Regions from separate parts of the Homo sapiens genome. Here region 2 is linked to region 1. The links come from fine-mapping of genetic effects on gene expression. Tissue or cell type: regulatory T cells. Region 1 holds a variant in brackets; the other region holds the start of a gene. All regions are shown on one strand. Distances are from middle to middle.

The links. PIP is the estimated chance that this variant, and not a neighbour inherited with it, causes the effect.
Region 2: it holds the start of HNRNPD, and the variant in region 1 is fine-mapped to the expression of HNRNPD in regulatory T cells (Bossini-Castillo 2019, PIP 0.95).

What each region holds. Positions count from the first base shown.
Region 1 is chr4:82,695,028-82,703,027 of GRCh38, reverse strand. All of the region lies in intron 2 of SCD5 (stearoyl-CoA desaturase 5), which reads left to right. It overlaps LOC124900727 (a long non-coding RNA gene), which reads left to right and starts at 3,634. Exons shown (of 2, transcript XR_007058166.1): 1 at 3,634-5,008. The variant AAC/C (reference allele first, on the strand shown) is at 3,456.
Region 2 is chr4:82,369,445-82,377,562 of GRCh38, reverse strand. HNRNPD (heterogeneous nuclear ribonucleoprotein D) reads left to right here and starts at 3,572. Exons shown (of 9, transcript NM_031370.3): 1 at 3,572-4,117; 2 at 5,979-6,035. The coding sequence starts at 3,885. It overlaps HNRNPD-DT (HNRNPD divergent transcript), which reads right to left and starts at 2,995. Exons shown (of 2, transcript NR_183813.1): 1 at 2,898-2,995. RefSeq lists enhancers at 3,444-3,613, 4,974-5,023 and a silencer at 3,974-4,073.

The DNA of each region.
Region 1 (8,000 bases):
CAGTGTTTCATGGACCTGGGGTTTTATAACAATGTCACTTAGACCTAGGTGGAAGGTACCTCTCTAAGATCAGATTAGGGCCAGTTTCCATAACATGCAGAACTGTGTCAGTGGGAGAGAACTAGAACAGAACTAGAACTAGTCAGTGTCTAGAACAATTTATTTAAACCACTTAACCCTATGAGGAGAACAACCTGGGGAAATGAAAAAATGCTATGATCTGCCAGTGTAGGATGGTGACTTACAACCCTGACTTAATGCAGTCATTGATTTAGTTTCCCTTTGATAATCCATGGGTTTTTAAAGATAGTTTCAAAGATTCTCTCTCTTCTCTCCTTCACCGGAATGGTCATGCCATTGGCCAAAATGGACAAGTCATGCCATAGCTGTCTCTGTTTGGGATCAGCAGGGTTTTTGCTAGATGCTACAAACAAGACCTTGAGCATTAAGAACAGTATTCTTAACGTTGAGACTTAAACATTTTAAACTCCTTTTCTTTTTCTTCTATAGAAGATGTATGTATGGGGCTGAGAGGCAATAGTAGGAAAGGTGGAGATACTTTTAGTCTAAAAAAATGATGATGGGCTGGGCGTGGTGGCTCATACCTGTAATCCCAGCACTTTGGGAGGCCGAGGCGAGTGGATCACCTGAGATCAGGAGTTCGAGAGCAGCCTGGCCAACATGGCAAAACCCCGTCTCTACTAAAAATACGAAAATTAGCTGGGCATGGTGGTGCATGCCTATAGTCCCAGCTATTTGAGAGGCTGAGACAGGAGAATCACTTGAATTCGGGAGGCAGAGGTTGCAGTGAGATGAGATCACACCACTGCACTCCAGCCTGGGCGACAGAGTGAGACTCCATCTCACAAAAAAAAAAAAAAAAAAAAAAAAAAAAAAGATGATGATGGGGCAGGAATGCCTGATAAGGAGCTATAAAATCCTCTGTCCCCTCTGAACCTGAACGCTTGTATTCAGCAAAGATCTCCTGAGTTCCTCTATGGTCTATCCTCCTTCCTTGCCAGTAGGGTGAAGTCAACCTAAAGACTGCTTGCAACTTCCTTATAATTTGCTCCAAGTCAAAGATGGACCCAGGTGAGAGATGCCTGTTCTCCAAGAGTTAAGTTTTCACAAGGAAGAGCCAGGATTCAGATTTGTGCTGTCACGCTCATGCATCTGCTTCTGCTGGCTACATCTGGGTCTCTCACAGACCCAGTCCAACCAAAAGCACCTACTAGATGCTTCAGCCCACTCCCTCGTGGCTCATATTTCCTTATCAAGTCATGGTAATGAGGCATTGGATTGAGAGCTGGAAGAGAACTAAAGGGATTTAGCTTAAATTCTCATATTCTACAGAGGAGTAAACAGAGAATACCAGTGACTTCTCGAAGTTCACACAGCTAATTAGTGGATAGACAGACTGAAACCCCATTGTCCTGATTCAGGCCACCCACTGGATATTCTTATGTGCTGTCCTACAGCATGATTTCTAAACAACATAGAGTTTAGTCTTTTTTTTTTTTAATCCTCTCTGACAGTCTGTCTTTTAATTGGTATATTTAGACCATTCACACTTAAAGTAATTATTGATATAGTTGGACTAATATCTACCAAGTTACCAATTATTGATATAGTTGGATCAATATCTACCAAGTTTCTGTTTTCCATTTGCTGCTCTTTTTCTTACTTTTTATTTGTGTATTCTACTCTTTTTCTATTTTTATGTGGTTTTAATGGACCATTTTGTATAAGTCTATTTTCTGTCCTCTCTTAACATATGAATTATACTTCTTTTTAAAAATTTTTATGGATTGCCCTAGAATTTGCAATATACATTTACAACTAATCGAAACCCACTTTCAAATAACACTGTACCACTTCATAATAGTACCTGCAGTAGCACAAGGACCTTCTAACAGTGTATTCCCAATTTCTCCCTCCTGTCTTTTACGACATTGTTGTCATTCATTTTACGTATCCATAAGCTATAATCACTAAACAAATTGTTACTATTCTTATTTTGAACAAATTGTTATGTGTTAGATTAAGAATAAGAATAATAAAAGTTTCTATTTTACCTTCACTTATGTAGATCCAGGTTTCTGATATAATTTTTCTTCTCTCTGAAGAACTCTTTTTACCATTTTTTGCAAGGCAAGTATACTGGTGACAAATTCCCTCAATTTTGGTTTGTCTGAGAATGTCTTTTTTTTTTTTTTTTTTTTTTTTTTTTTTTTTTTTTTAGAGACAGGGTCTCACTCCGTCACCCAGGCTGGAGTGCAGTGGAGCAATCATGGCTCACTGCAGCCTTGAACTCCTGGGCTTAAGCGCCCCTCCCACCTCAGCCTCCCTAGTAGCTAGGACTATAGGCACATAGCACCACACCCAGCTTGAGAAAGTCCTTATTTCTACTTCATTTTCGAAGAGTAATTTTGCTGAGTACAGAATTCTAGGTGGGTGGATTTTTCTCTTTCAACACTTAAATATTTTATTTCACTCTCTTCTTGCTTGCTGGTTTCTGAAGAGAAACCTGGTATAATTCTTCTCCTCACTCCTTTATAGGTAAGGAGGGATTTTTTCCACTCTGGATTCTTTCAAGATTTTCTCTTTGTCTTTGATTTTCTGCAGTTTGAATATGATGATACCTAAGTATTAGCTGGGCATGGTGTAAACCCTAAGTGTAGGGTTTTTTGGTATGTATCCTGCTTGGAGTTTTCTGAGTGTCCTGGATCTATGGTTTGGTGCTTGTCATTAATTCGGAAAATTCTCAGCCATTATTACTTAAATATTTTCTTTTTCTTTTTTATCTTTTTTGAGATGGAGTCCCACTCTGTTGCACATGCTGTAATGCAGTGGTGTGATCTCGACTCACTGCAACCTCCGCCTCCCAGGTTCAAGAGATTCTCATGCCTAAGCCACCCGAGTAGCTGGGATTACAGGTGCGCGCCACCAAACCCAGCTTGTTTTTGCATTTTTAGTAAAGATAAGGTTTCACCGTGTTGGTCAGGCTGGTCTCAAACTCCTGGCCTCAAGTGATCCACCTGCCTTGGCCTTCCAAAGTGCTGGGATTGGGCCAGGTGTGGTGGCCCATGCCTATAATCCCAGCACTTTGGGAGGCCGAGGCAGGCGGATTACGAGGTCAAGAGATCGAGACCATCCTGGCCAACATGGTGAAACCCCGTGTCTACTAAAAATACAAAAATTAGCCAGGCGTGGTGGCGTGCACCTGTAGTCCCAGCTACTTGGGAGGCTGAGGCAGGAGAATCGCTTGAACCTGGGACGTGGAGGTTGCAGTAAGCTGAGATTGTGCCACTGCACTTCAGCCTGGTGACAGTGGGAGACTCCATCTCAAAAAAATAAAATAAAATAACAAAGTGCTGGGATTACAGGCATGAGACATTGGGCCATTGCACTCCAGCCTGGGGAACAAGGCTGAAACTGTCTCAAAAAAAAAAAAA[AAC/C]AAAAAACAAAAAACAAAATTAGCCAGGCATGGTGGCGTGTGCCTGTAGTCCCAGCTGCTTGGGAGGCTGAGACATGAGAATCGCTTGAACCTGGGAGGTGGAGGTTGCAGTGAGTTGAGATTGTGCCACTGCACTCCAGCCTGGGTGACAGAGCGAGTCTCTGTCTCAAAAAAAAAAAGTCATTGATAATGCCCCTACAAAGTAGGTACTATTATTTTCCTCATTTGATAGGCGAGAAAACAGAAAAGTGGTTATGTAACCTATCCAAGGACATTCGGATTTATGTGACAGAAGAGGGGTTTAAATGTAAGCATCTGGACTCCAGAAGTCACCCTCTTACTGCTGTGCTGTAATGCAGTAGTCCTCAGCCTTTATGGCACTAGGGACCAGTTTCATGGAAGGCAATTTTTCCATAGATGGCAGGGTGGGGGGATGGTTTTAAGATGATTCAAATACATAACATTCATCATTAGATTCTCATACCAGTCCGTGGCCCGGGGGTTGCGGACCCCTGCTCTAGTGCCTCTCCCAGTGTCCAAATGCACATTTATCCTTTCATTCAGCAAACACATGTGTTAAGCATTGTTCTAGGCACAGGAGAACAAGACAGACAAGGTCCCTGTCCTCATAACGTGTATATTACAGTAGGAGAGACAGCAAATGAACATGTGAGCAAATGAACAAACAAATGTATTCAGAGAGAGAAGGATATAAAGAATTAAACAGAGTAACATCACATAGAGGCCCAAGATGGGGCATCTTTACAAAGTGTGGTCAGAGAAGACCTTGCTGAGGAGGTGGCATTAGTGCTGAGACCTGAAGGAGAGGAGGGTAGAGGAAGAGCATCCAGAGGGAGGAGTCAAAGCAAAACCAGGAATGAGGATGCTGTGTCCAAGGAGCAGAAAGATGGCCAGCGTGGCTGGTCCATGTGAGTGCAAGGCCAGAGTGGGGGATGGGGGCCACATCAGTGCAAGGCTCTGTCAGGCAGAGTTCAGATATTGTTCTACATATCACAGGAAGGCACTGCCAGGTCTTAGGCAGGGAGTGACATGGCCTCATGCGTTTCCATGGCTTGAGTAAGCCTCAGAACACAGTCAGGAGACCCCAAAGAGTTTGTGCCTGTTTCAGGATAATAGACCATCCCCCAAGGCTGGGTCTCTGGGGGGTGTGCATGTCAAGGAGGGAGACTTGTGTGCGAGGCAGCACCCTCAAGTACAGCTCATGCTGTTAGCAGCAGCATGCAGTGGCGGTTGTGTAGAAGAGAACAAAACACCAGAACTTTAGTGCAGCTCAGGAATCCTTAACCTTATGTGGCTCTCTGTGGGTTCTAAGTCTCCCTTCAGAAATCCTGTTTCAGTGTTGCCACCTTTCCTAGCCATGAGCCTAAGCTTCAGATGCACAACTTTTCTTCTGCACATCAGAAACAGGTTTGCCTTCTTCCTTTCAAGATGGGTGGGTGTTGTTGGTTTTCTCCTCCATGTAAACAGGCAGCAGCAGAAGTGGTCCTGACCCAGATGCCCTGACAGCTTTTCCTGGTGTGATTTTGGAAGGTGAGATTTGCACATCATGCCTCACATTATCTTCTTCCACAGCATTTCACCATCCAGGGCACATTTGGAACATTTGGAAGTCATGAGAAAAGAGCAAATAGCTTGGTCGTCTCTAAGCAGTGAAGACGGTGATTTATCAATTCATTAAAGCATTGTCATTCCATGCATGCTGCATTGTAACCCCTTCCGTTATGCGGAATACTCCGACAAAGTGGTGCAGGTGGGAGGTGGCCTAGCAGGTGAGCGAGAGAGCAAGAAAGAGAGAGAGAAAGGAAACCAGGAAACTCTCCAGAGGCTGCTGCGTGGGGTACGGCATTTTCTTTCTGCACTTACCTGGCAGGATTAATTATACTTTCTACCAACAAAAATGAACCTATTAAGGTAGAAAATAAAATTTCCCCACCCCTAAGATGCCTTACTTGCTTATTTGTTGGGGATCTAGGTCAGTGAAAGTAGGTGAGATGAGAGAAATCATCTAAGAAAATGAACCTCAAGGGGATGAAAATGTGACAGTCTGAGCAAGAGGGTAATTAGACAGATGAACAGACCAACCAACAGGGCTAGTCTGTTTCTCACAGCACCATCTCCAGATACGGTGGGAACTCTTTAATGCAGATCTTACCTGCTTTGTACAGTGGATATATTTCTAACCACTTTAAGGCGATTAGATTTTTGTAAACCAAAAAAACCGCAATACTTTAAAGAGTTTTTATTTGAAGAAATAGTTGGTAGAGATAATTTTTGTAAACAAATAACTATCAGATTTTATGTTAATTTAGCCCGGCATCTGTATTGGAAGAAAGACACTGTTTTGAAGGTGAATTCCGCATGCAGTCCTGTCAATTGGGAATCTATTTGGAAACATATTTTCAAGCTTTGTGTTTCATCCTGTCTTCTTTTCCTAAAGATCTTTAGAAGTGCTGCACACAGTGAACCTCCTTAATCATGTATTTTCTCGCAACCTTTCTTTGTCTTAGAACCACAGAAGGTTAGAGCTGGGATCACAGGAGGTTAGAATTGGGGAACCTTAGAAGCCACGAGTCTAATTCTTTTCTAACAGCTGAATAAACTAAGGCCCAAATGTCTGAGCTTATTTTGTTTATTTTCCCAAACCATCTCCAAAAATGTTTATGGACATTGAAGAAGACTGTATTGCAATGCAATTCCTTGACAAGTCATTTCTCCCTGTACCTGTCACCAGCCATGTGGGATGAGACAGCACATTGTCATTGCATATTCTTTATTCCATTGCTAGCCTGCCAGACACTCTTATGCTGCTGCTTTCTAGGTTTCCCAACCCACTGATTATATTGCATTTTGGATGATTTCTCCCCCAGCTGCCTTCATTTGCATTTTTCTGAAATCAAATCTCATTGTGATAATTTCTATTCATATTTCTAACCTCTTTGGATCCATCTGTGTTATTCCTCTTTCCTCAATGATGTCTGCAGCACCTCCTAATTTAGTACCAATCAGAAATGTTATTAACAAAATGTGTAAGCCTTGTTCCCAGACATTAATGAAGATACGAAATGAAACAGATCTAACAGACACAGTGAGGCCTTCTGTTAGTGGCCTCTTCCCCACCCCTTTATTAGATATTGAATTGTTTTTCATCATTGGTCCTTGTTTATCAAAGTCCAGGCTTTTCAATCATCCTGTTCCAATTCCCATTAATGCCAGCCAGCGCTCTCGTCACGGGATTATCTCAGGAATGCTGCCTCAATGCCTTATCACGCTCCAAAGATACAATGTCTACAGGAGTCATTGAATCAGCAGTTTTAATTAATGATAATATTTATTGAGTTTCAGATGCCAAATGGAAATTTCTAGCTTTGCTTTTAAAAACTCTTTCAGAAGGCAGAAGCATTTGATTATTTTTACCTTCTTCCATTTGAATATTTCATAGCTTTTCATGTAAATCTGCTGTTTAATTACCACTACATTTAAAAGTGCATAAGCCACTATGTGCTTATGAAGAACACAAGTAATATCTAAGAAGTGGCCCTTGGATGAGGAGCTTACAATCTGATAGAGCTGGCTAGACTTGTGTGCAATAAAGACTCTTATAAAAAGACAATGTGGAGTTAAATTGCTCAAAAGTGTCACACTGACTTTTAGGGCTGCAGAAATTTGAATATGGGCTAGGATCATTGGACAAAGCCTACTGCAGAAGGGGAGATTTGAGCTGCACATGAAGAGGATTTGTCTAGGCAAAGAAGAAGAGGAGGGTAGGGAAAACATCTGAGCAAAGGTAGGGAGAGAGGAATGATTAGAACATACTGTATAAGGTCACAGCATAGTTAGAAAATCACCCAGATTGAAGAAGTAAGCTGACAGGGTATAGTGTGTTACAAATCTGGTTACCCATGTGACATCTCTTATTGGATGTCCTAACTTAGGCTTCGCAAACTCAGCATGCCCCAAATCAAAGTTGTGACTCTACCTTCTCACCGAAACTGTTCTTCTGTTCTTCTCCTAGCTTTCCCACCAGAAGTCTGGGTATCATCCATGATTTCTCCATTTCCCTAGTTATCCCTCACCAATTTTTAAGCCAATCCCTTCAGTTCTATCACTAAATTACATCTTGAATCTGCACACTTCTCATTTTTACCACCTTTTAGTTCAAGATCAACTTTTTTCCTAGGCTACTGCAAAAGCCTCCTGAACTGGTCTTCTGATTCAATGCTTGCCCCTCTCTATATTGTAGCCAGAGAGAGCTTATTGGAAATTAAACGACTCTCCAGCTAAATAAATAAATAAATATTTCAGTGGCTTAGCATTGTATTTGGAATGAAATCCAACCTCACTGTTATGTTCTATGGGGCCCTGCGTGATCAGGGCCTTGCACACCAGTCCTCTGTGTCCACCCCAAGTTGGTGTACTTCAGTGTAATTCTGACACTAACCACCCGGGGTTAACATCAGATCCCACAAGTTAAAGGCTGAGTGCTCCACATGGCTGTCCCCACTTCAGACGCCTGCTGCAAGGG
Region 2 (8,118 bases), 330 kb after region 1:
TCTGCCTTGTGGGTTCATGTAATTTTCCTGCCTCAGCCTCCCCAGTAGCCAGGATTACAGGCGTGCGCCACCACGCCCAGCTTATTTTTGTATCTTCAGTAGAGATGGGGTTTCACCACATTGCCCAGGCTGCTCTCGAACTCCCGGCCTCAAGTGATCCACCCACCTCGGACTCTCAAAGTGTTGGGATTAGAGGCGTAAGCCACCGCACCCGGCAACAGAAACGGGTTAAACACAACCCAAGGCGTCCCTGGGTGGGCAGGAACTGATTTTTTAAATTTTTTGTAGAGATAGGTTTTGCTATGTTGCCGGGGCTGGTCTCAAATTCCTGGCTTGGCCGGGCGCGGTGGCTCACACCTGTAATCCCAGCACTTTGGGAGGCCGAGGCGGGCGGATCACGAGGTCAGGAGATCGAGACCGTCCTGACTAGCACAGTGAAACCCCGTCTCTACTAAAAATACAAAAAAAATTAGCCGGGCGTGGTGGCAGGTGCCTGTTGTCCCAGCTACTTGGGAGACAGGAAGGAGAATGGCGTCAACCCGGGAGTGAGCCGAGATCGCGCCATTGCACCTCCAGCCTGGGCAACAGAGTGAAACTCTGTCTCAAAAAAAAAAAAAAAAAAAAAAAAATTCCTGGGCTCAAGCAATCATCCCTCCTTGGCCTACCAAAGTGTTGGGATTATAGGCATGAGCCACAGCACCTGGCCAAAAGTTTTTTTTTTTTTAATGCCAGAGATGAAATGAGATGGTGTGGAGAGGAGACTTTCAAGTCCCTGGAAGAACACCTAGTTTGCTTGAAAGCCCCTTAATCTAACAAGTTGGACATACTTATTATTTTGTCATTCAATAATTCAACTGGCAATTACATAGTGTGGATATACTGCTGCTGTGTTTATGTGTGTGTGAGAGTGTGTTAGGGAGGGAGAGATACATAGAAGACACTGTTTTCTAAGAACTCATGGTCTAGTAGAAAACAATGAAGAATAACAGAGGTAAAGATAAAGGGCTGTGAAAAGGGATCATTAATTCTGCCTCAGGAAGCCTGGGAAGACTTCACATAAATAGTAACATTTGTTTGTTTTTGAGACAGGGTCTCACTCTGCCTTTCTCACTGCAGCCTCCACCTTCCAGGTTCAAGTGATCCTCCCACTTCAGCCTCAGGAGTAGCTGGAACAACAGGAACCACCATGCCAGGTTAATTTTCTGACTTTTTGTAGAGGCAAGGTCTCACTCCGTTGCCCAGGCTGATGGCCAACTCCTTGAGGCAAGCAATCCTCCCGACTTGGCCTCTCAAAGTGCTGGATTACAGGCGTGAGCCACCACGCCTGCCAGAAGTTAAGTGAGTTCCAAGAAGAATATTGTGTGGATGCAGGAGCACATCCTGGATGTAGAGATCTTGGCCATAATATCAAGGACTATCAGTGATATGGACATCATACATCCTCATAAAGCATGTAAAGGTGTTAGCTTTAAAATCATTCCTAGGTTGTCTGGAACTTTTGACATAAATTCTAAGAATTCCAGAAGCTCCTAAGCTACATGTGAAATCAAAATGAACCTTTTGGAAAAGTCACTATTACCAAAAGGTGGGTATGTCTAATGATATCTTAAGATCAAAATAAATGACAATTACCGTCACTTGAGCCAGAAAAGATTAAACAGACTTCCCTTCAGTCAATCATCTTAGTTGTATCTAACCCGGAATATATGGTTTGAGCACCATATCCACTTTATCCTTTGCTAATATTCTGGCAGGTGGAGACAAATGTGGAGTCACTACCACTTTACGGTAAACATTCTTGGTATTACCTTTATGTGACTTGATTATTACGGGAGTTTGGTAAGATTATATTTTTAGGACGTTTTCAGAATTTGACCTGTATTCTTGAGTTTTAATTATTCTGTAATGTAAATTCTACTAACTTGATTAATAAAACTTACTTATAATCTTCCTTTGAGATTTTTGGATAGTGTCCAATTAATACAAATTCGTTTAACTGCAGTGGAAAATACCTAAACTTTTTTTTTTTTTTTTTTTTTGAGACGGAGTCTCGCTCTGTCGCCCAGGCTGGAGTGCAAGTGGCATGATCTCGACTCCCTGCAATCTCCACCTCCCGGGTTCAAGCGATTCTCCTGCCTCAGCCTCCTGAGTACCTGAGATTACAGGTACCGGCCACCACGCCCGGCTAATTTTTGTATTTTTAGTAGACACGGGGGTTTCACCATGTTGGTCAGGCTTGTCTCGAACTCCTGACCTCGTGATCCGCCCGCCTCGGCCTCCCAAAGTGCTGGGATTACAGGCGTGAGCCACCGCGCCCGGCCCAAATACTTAAACTCTTAAGATTTTTGCTGGAGTCTGCAAACTCGTCTTTGTTTCCCCCGTGCCCGAACACTTTAATTAAACAGGCAAATAATTATTTGTTGACTACAGAAGTACCTAGAAGCTTCATTTTCTTCTAAGGATACTGCTGGAAGCAGCAAATCCCAAAGCCCGAATAATCCAGTCTCCAGCCGAGGCAGCGGGAATTTTTAATAGGTGTATAAAATTACTTTTTATACACCTTAATGAAACGCCTAACGGTGTTACAAGAAAAGAAAAAAAAAAACCACGCACACACAACAAAAAAGCCAAACCCGAACACAAACTCATAAACCTCGTAAAGATGACTCACGACATTTATATATTCTATGTACAAAGGCTAAAGAACATTAAGCGAACCCTTGATTTAACACACTTTCCAATTATTAGTAACGTAAAGGAATCACGGTACGTTTTAGGATCTTTAAACAACAAAAGCAAAGCAAAAACAATGTTTTCCTTAAGATATGCAAGTTACCTGCTTCTTCGACCAAAAACAAAAAAATTCCAGGAGAAAAGCAGGCAAACAAAAATCTTACTTGGAAAGCCAAATCTTAAAAAGAAGCCCTATCGGCCCAGCGGCGATAGACGAAAACCTCAATGTCACCCGGTCCCGGGCGGCGACGGCAGGGAGAGTAGCTGCGGCAATCAGTGCGCGCGCGGTCCGCTGCGGCGCCTGGCGCTCCGCGGGCGTCCGGGTGGACAGCGCCAGGGGCACAGGGCTGACATCTCAGGGCTAATTCCCTCCTCCAGTGCGTAAATCCAGGCTTAAGCCGCCGCAGGGTGTGAGCCTCCCCTCCCCCACCCGAACGCCGCAGCTGCACGGGGCACGACAGCCTTCGCAGAGGTGCAGCCACACCCCGGCCTAACGCTGCTGCTCCCGCCGCTACTGGAGTGGTGGGGAGGGGTGAGTGGACTCCAGGAATCCTCGGAAGGGCGGGGGCGGAGGCAGGGGGCCCCTCTAGCCGCTACTTCGAAACAGCACTCCTTGTTCTCGATGGTCCCCGCGCGACTGTCTTAGCTCACGACACTTCCGGTTCCTTTTAAAGGCCCCCAAGGCTGTGCAACGCGGAGCGTGAGAGGAAGGTATAAAGGGTAGCGAGAGGGCGGGACCGAGGAGGAAAGGGAAAAAAAAAAAACTAGGGGGATAGGGGTGGGGGGACGCGCGAAGGGCGCGCTCTCGCGTCACGTGACCGGGACGCGCCGTTCTTCCGTCGGCCATTTTAGGTGGTCCGCGGCGGCGCCATTAAAGCGAGGAGGAGGCGAGAGCGGCCGCCGCTGGTGCTTATTCTTTTTTAGTGCAGCGGGAGAGAGCGGGAGTGTGCGCCGCGCGAGAGTGGGAGGCGAAGGGGGCAGGCCAGGGAGAGGCGCAGGAGCCTTTGCAGCCACGCGCGCGCCTTCCCTGTCTTGTGTGCTTCGCGAGGTAGAGCGGGCGCGCGGCAGCGGCGGGGATTACTTTGCTGCTAGTTTCGGTTCGCGGCAGCGGCGGGTGTAGTCTCGGCGGCAGCGGCGGAGACACTAGCACTATGTCGGAGGAGCAGTTCGGCGGGGACGGGGCGGCGGCAGCGGCAACGGCGGCGGTAGGCGGCTCGGCGGGCGAGCAGGAGGGAGCCATGGTGGCGGCGACACAGGGGGCAGCGGCGGCGGCGGGAAGCGGAGCCGGGACCGGGGGCGGAACCGCGTCTGGAGGCACCGAAGGGGGCAGCGCCGAGTCGGAGGGGGCGAAGATTGACGCCAGTAAGAACGAGGAGGATGAAGGGTGAGTAAGGGGCATCCCAGGATAGTCAGGCCCAACTAGTCCCCCTCCCCCTCTTTATTCCCCCGCCATTAGGCCTGGTTCCCGCTCTCAGCCCGTTCTCCGGGCCCCCATGCAGCCTCCTTGCACTGGTCTCCCTTTTTCTATGTTGGGTTCCCCGGACCTTCATTTCCTTCTTCCTTTGCCTGCTTATCGCCCCCCTCCCCCATCACACACGTTTCCACCTTTAGCCGTCACCATGCTGCTCCTCGGCCCGCCCTCCTTTCCTCCCTCGCCATGGGTCTCCTCCCACCGACTTAGCCGCCAGGATTTTTTCCCGCCTGTCGTGGGGTACCTTTTTTCTTTCCATGCTGTCCCCTCTTTTTCCCTTTTTCTACAGTCTTGGGCATAAAAACACAGACACAAACAGCTTCTCTGTTTGTATTACTAAGGTTTATTTGGTGCTTCTCCACCATCCTGAAACGATGCGATTGTTTATAAGCACATGTTTTGGGGAACGCGTAGGCTGTCCACCTCTGCCTCTCCCTTGTCGGCCTTAGGCCGACTGTTTTCTTGGGATTTTGAATAAGTTTCGCCTAAGGATTTACTCATTTTCTCCACCATACGCTATCGCACAATGGCATACTCATACAGGCCCTACATTTTGACATGCAGACCAAATTGGGTCTGGTGAAATGCTCCGAGTTTCTTGTTGGTACATTGGTTTTGCTCCGCGGGCTCTGGTTAAGTTCTTAGTCGATCGGGCCTGCACTTGACTGGAGCTGTTCCTATCTCCGGCCTAGCATCTACCCTTCCCCCACCCCACTGAGTTATTCTAACCGCGCACCCTTTTCGCGCCCTCAGCTATTGGGTTCCCCAACTGTTAGTACAGATTGTACCTTACTTTTTATGTGCAACCTAATTTTTTACAACCCCCAGCCCCCTTTTTTTCCCGGTGCCCAGGATCCTATTTTGGTGTCTTGATATCTGTTTCCCGCCCACTAAGGGAGGCCTGTAGTCCTCTTAAGAGAAACAAATCCTGTATTGTGCTATGGGATACTTTTTTTTTCTTTTTGGTGCAAATTTCTTAGTATTAACTTGCTTCCTCCAATTGAAATAACAGTTGTATATACTACCTAAATCTGCATTTAGTGTATTAAAATGCAGCATTTGGGATTGGGAACATAATACGGGAGTTAGCAGGAGGGACTAAATCAGGTTTCTTGGTTGAGTTTTCTTAGCTCCGATTACTGACCGATGATCGTGGGTTCACGCTTCCATTCCTTTTTGTAATGGGGAGGGGTGTGTGTGTGTCTGAATTTTTTTTTAACTGTAAAGAGAAAGGTGTTGGTGGATATAACAAGATGTCGCTTTAATCTAGTATTAGAAAACACGATTTCCTTTACTGAGAAAGAGCCCAGGATTTGGAGGGAAAGTTGGGAGGGGAGAAGCACTTTGGAATATAGGGTTTATTAAGCCCAGCCTAGGCAGATTCTTGTCAGGCTGTTTGATGATAGTGCTGGTTTTGGGGGAGTGGTGGTGGGAAGGGAAGCAAACTTTTAAAAATTAAACAGAACCAACTCGAATTGTATATAGCTTATTTGAGAAAGGAAGATGTTAGATATTTGGAAACTTAAAACCTTTAACATTTTGGTTTTCGTTTGCTGAATTCTGTTCTTTGGACAGAGGCACCAAAATGATTAATTGTATAACTTCCTGTTTGGGGCAGGCTTTCTGTTAGCCCTGATAATTCAAATCGCAAAGCAGCTGACTTTATAGTTACCTACTGTTGAAGTGTAAATGAATTAAAGTTTTTAACCCTAACAGTGTCAAAAACTAAAACTAGAATTTTGATTGGTTGCTGTACCGGTTGTTAATTCCCTAGCCATTCAAACTCCTCCCCACGACACTCTGAAGCAGCGACGGCACAGCGGGAAGAATGGTAAAACTTTTAAATTTTATTTCTGTATTATAAAGGTTTCAGTAGTCATAATATGTAGAGGCTGTGTATTGGTTAGTTGCCCATTGATCCCCAGGAAATTCTAGACCATAGTACATACAGTAGGTTTGTACCTGGGATATATACCTTTTATAGGCATCATGTGTAATCTTTGGGCAAAATTGATGCCGTTACATGGTATTTGGTCTGTGGTAATGCATGTAGTTGCAGTTTGGCAATTTAAGCTAAACAATTAGTAACGATATTTTTATATCGAGCAAGAAAAAATATTACCGTAATCTTCACATTTGATTTATTTTAAGATGAAAAATATTTTTGTTGGAATTTAAGTTTAATGGCTAAATATGAAGACTCCTTGATATAAAATATTGTGTTTAAAATGTCATGCATGTTATACTGAAATATTCTGGAGATGTCTGAAGCAGTTCTTTAAGCAGCACTGTGTATTATGGAAAAATGTTTGTCTTTTACCTAGCATATTTGTAAATAGACCTTTAATAAGAAGTGTGTGTGTGTGTGTGTGTGTGTATATATATACCATTAAAAGGTGGGCTAATGTGGCTTTCCACTACAGCTCTTACCAGATTTTTTATTTTCAGTGTGATTTGGCTGGAATATTAATAACAGTTGGTTGACATGTATTCACAATTGCATGACTTCTCTTTGGAGGCTGGTAGGTTGAGTATTGTTCTTTTTATCCATCCTTTCCCCTCCCCTAAATGTCAGTCTTTCTGCTTTTAGGATTATATTTGAATTTTCAGGGGTTTATACACCACCACTGGAGAGTAGAAGGCCACTAACTTGCAGGCAGTTAACTTATATCTTTACAAGCTACATTCTATTTTAAGAGCCTATTTAGGGTAACATTTAAAGATTTGCTTATCACTGTATTCTCATCCACTGAAATCAGTCCAGCTTTACCTTGGAGAAAAAGCAGATGGGAAACAGGCAAGGGGAAAAGCAAAAAAGAGGAAAAAAAAAAGACTGGGGTCACAGTTTCGATGAATGTTATTCCCTGTATTTGGTGAGTGGTGGGCACTAGCAGCTCAATTTCACTGCTAGCTAATAGTGGCAAATTAAGATTAAACTATAAACTATTTGACATTACTCCATTATGTATTTTGAGTCTCATGTAATTGTTTCCAGTGATTTGAAATGACCATAAACTTAAATTTGAAGGTCAGTGTTTTGACTCTTCGAAGTAATTACACTTGACCTGCTACCTAAAACGATGTAATATTACAACTTTTTTGAATAATCTCAGGAAAAATGGAGAAATGTTTATATTCATAGTTAATAAACATTCTAGATAGTAACCAACTGTCATTTACTGAAAATAAAATTTTACCCAGGTTTATTTTATTTTTGAGACGGAGTTTAGCTTTTGTTGCCCAGGCTGGAGTGCAGTGGTGTGATCTTGGCTCAGCGCAACCTCCACCTCCCAGGTTCAAGCAATTCTCCTGCCTCAGCCTCCAAAGTAGTTGGGATTACAGGCATATTCCACCATGCCTGGCTAATTTTGTATTTTTAGTAGAGACAGGGTTTCTTCATGTTGGTCAGGCTGGTCTCGAACTCCCGACCTCAGGTGATCCGCCTGCCTCGGCCTCCCCAAGTGCTGTAATCACAGGCGTGAGCCACTGCGCCCGGCCTAGCCAGGTTGATTTTAAAATTACACTTAAAAATAATGTTCTCATTTTTAAGGGCTCTAATATTTGACTTTTCTTAACTTTCCAATTATGCAGCCCTATCCTGTTCCAGACGTTAAGGCTTTCTTTTTGAATGAAAAACTTTCAGACTTTTTTCTCTCTCTTTTTTTTTTTTTGGTGTCTGCACTCCCCACCGTATCTGTCCCTTCCTCTTTCTCCCATTTTGAGGGATATTATAAGGGCAACAGTTTTATAGTCTCAATATTGAGGGTAAGACTGGTTAATAGAGTATCCAAATTGAATTTATTAAACACAGTTCTGTGTGCATTTCCTTCTGCAAATCTGAGAATAAAGTGATTACAGTTTCATCCTAAAATACTTTAAAAATCAGTTGGTTTTAGAAATAGGTTTTTTTCCTT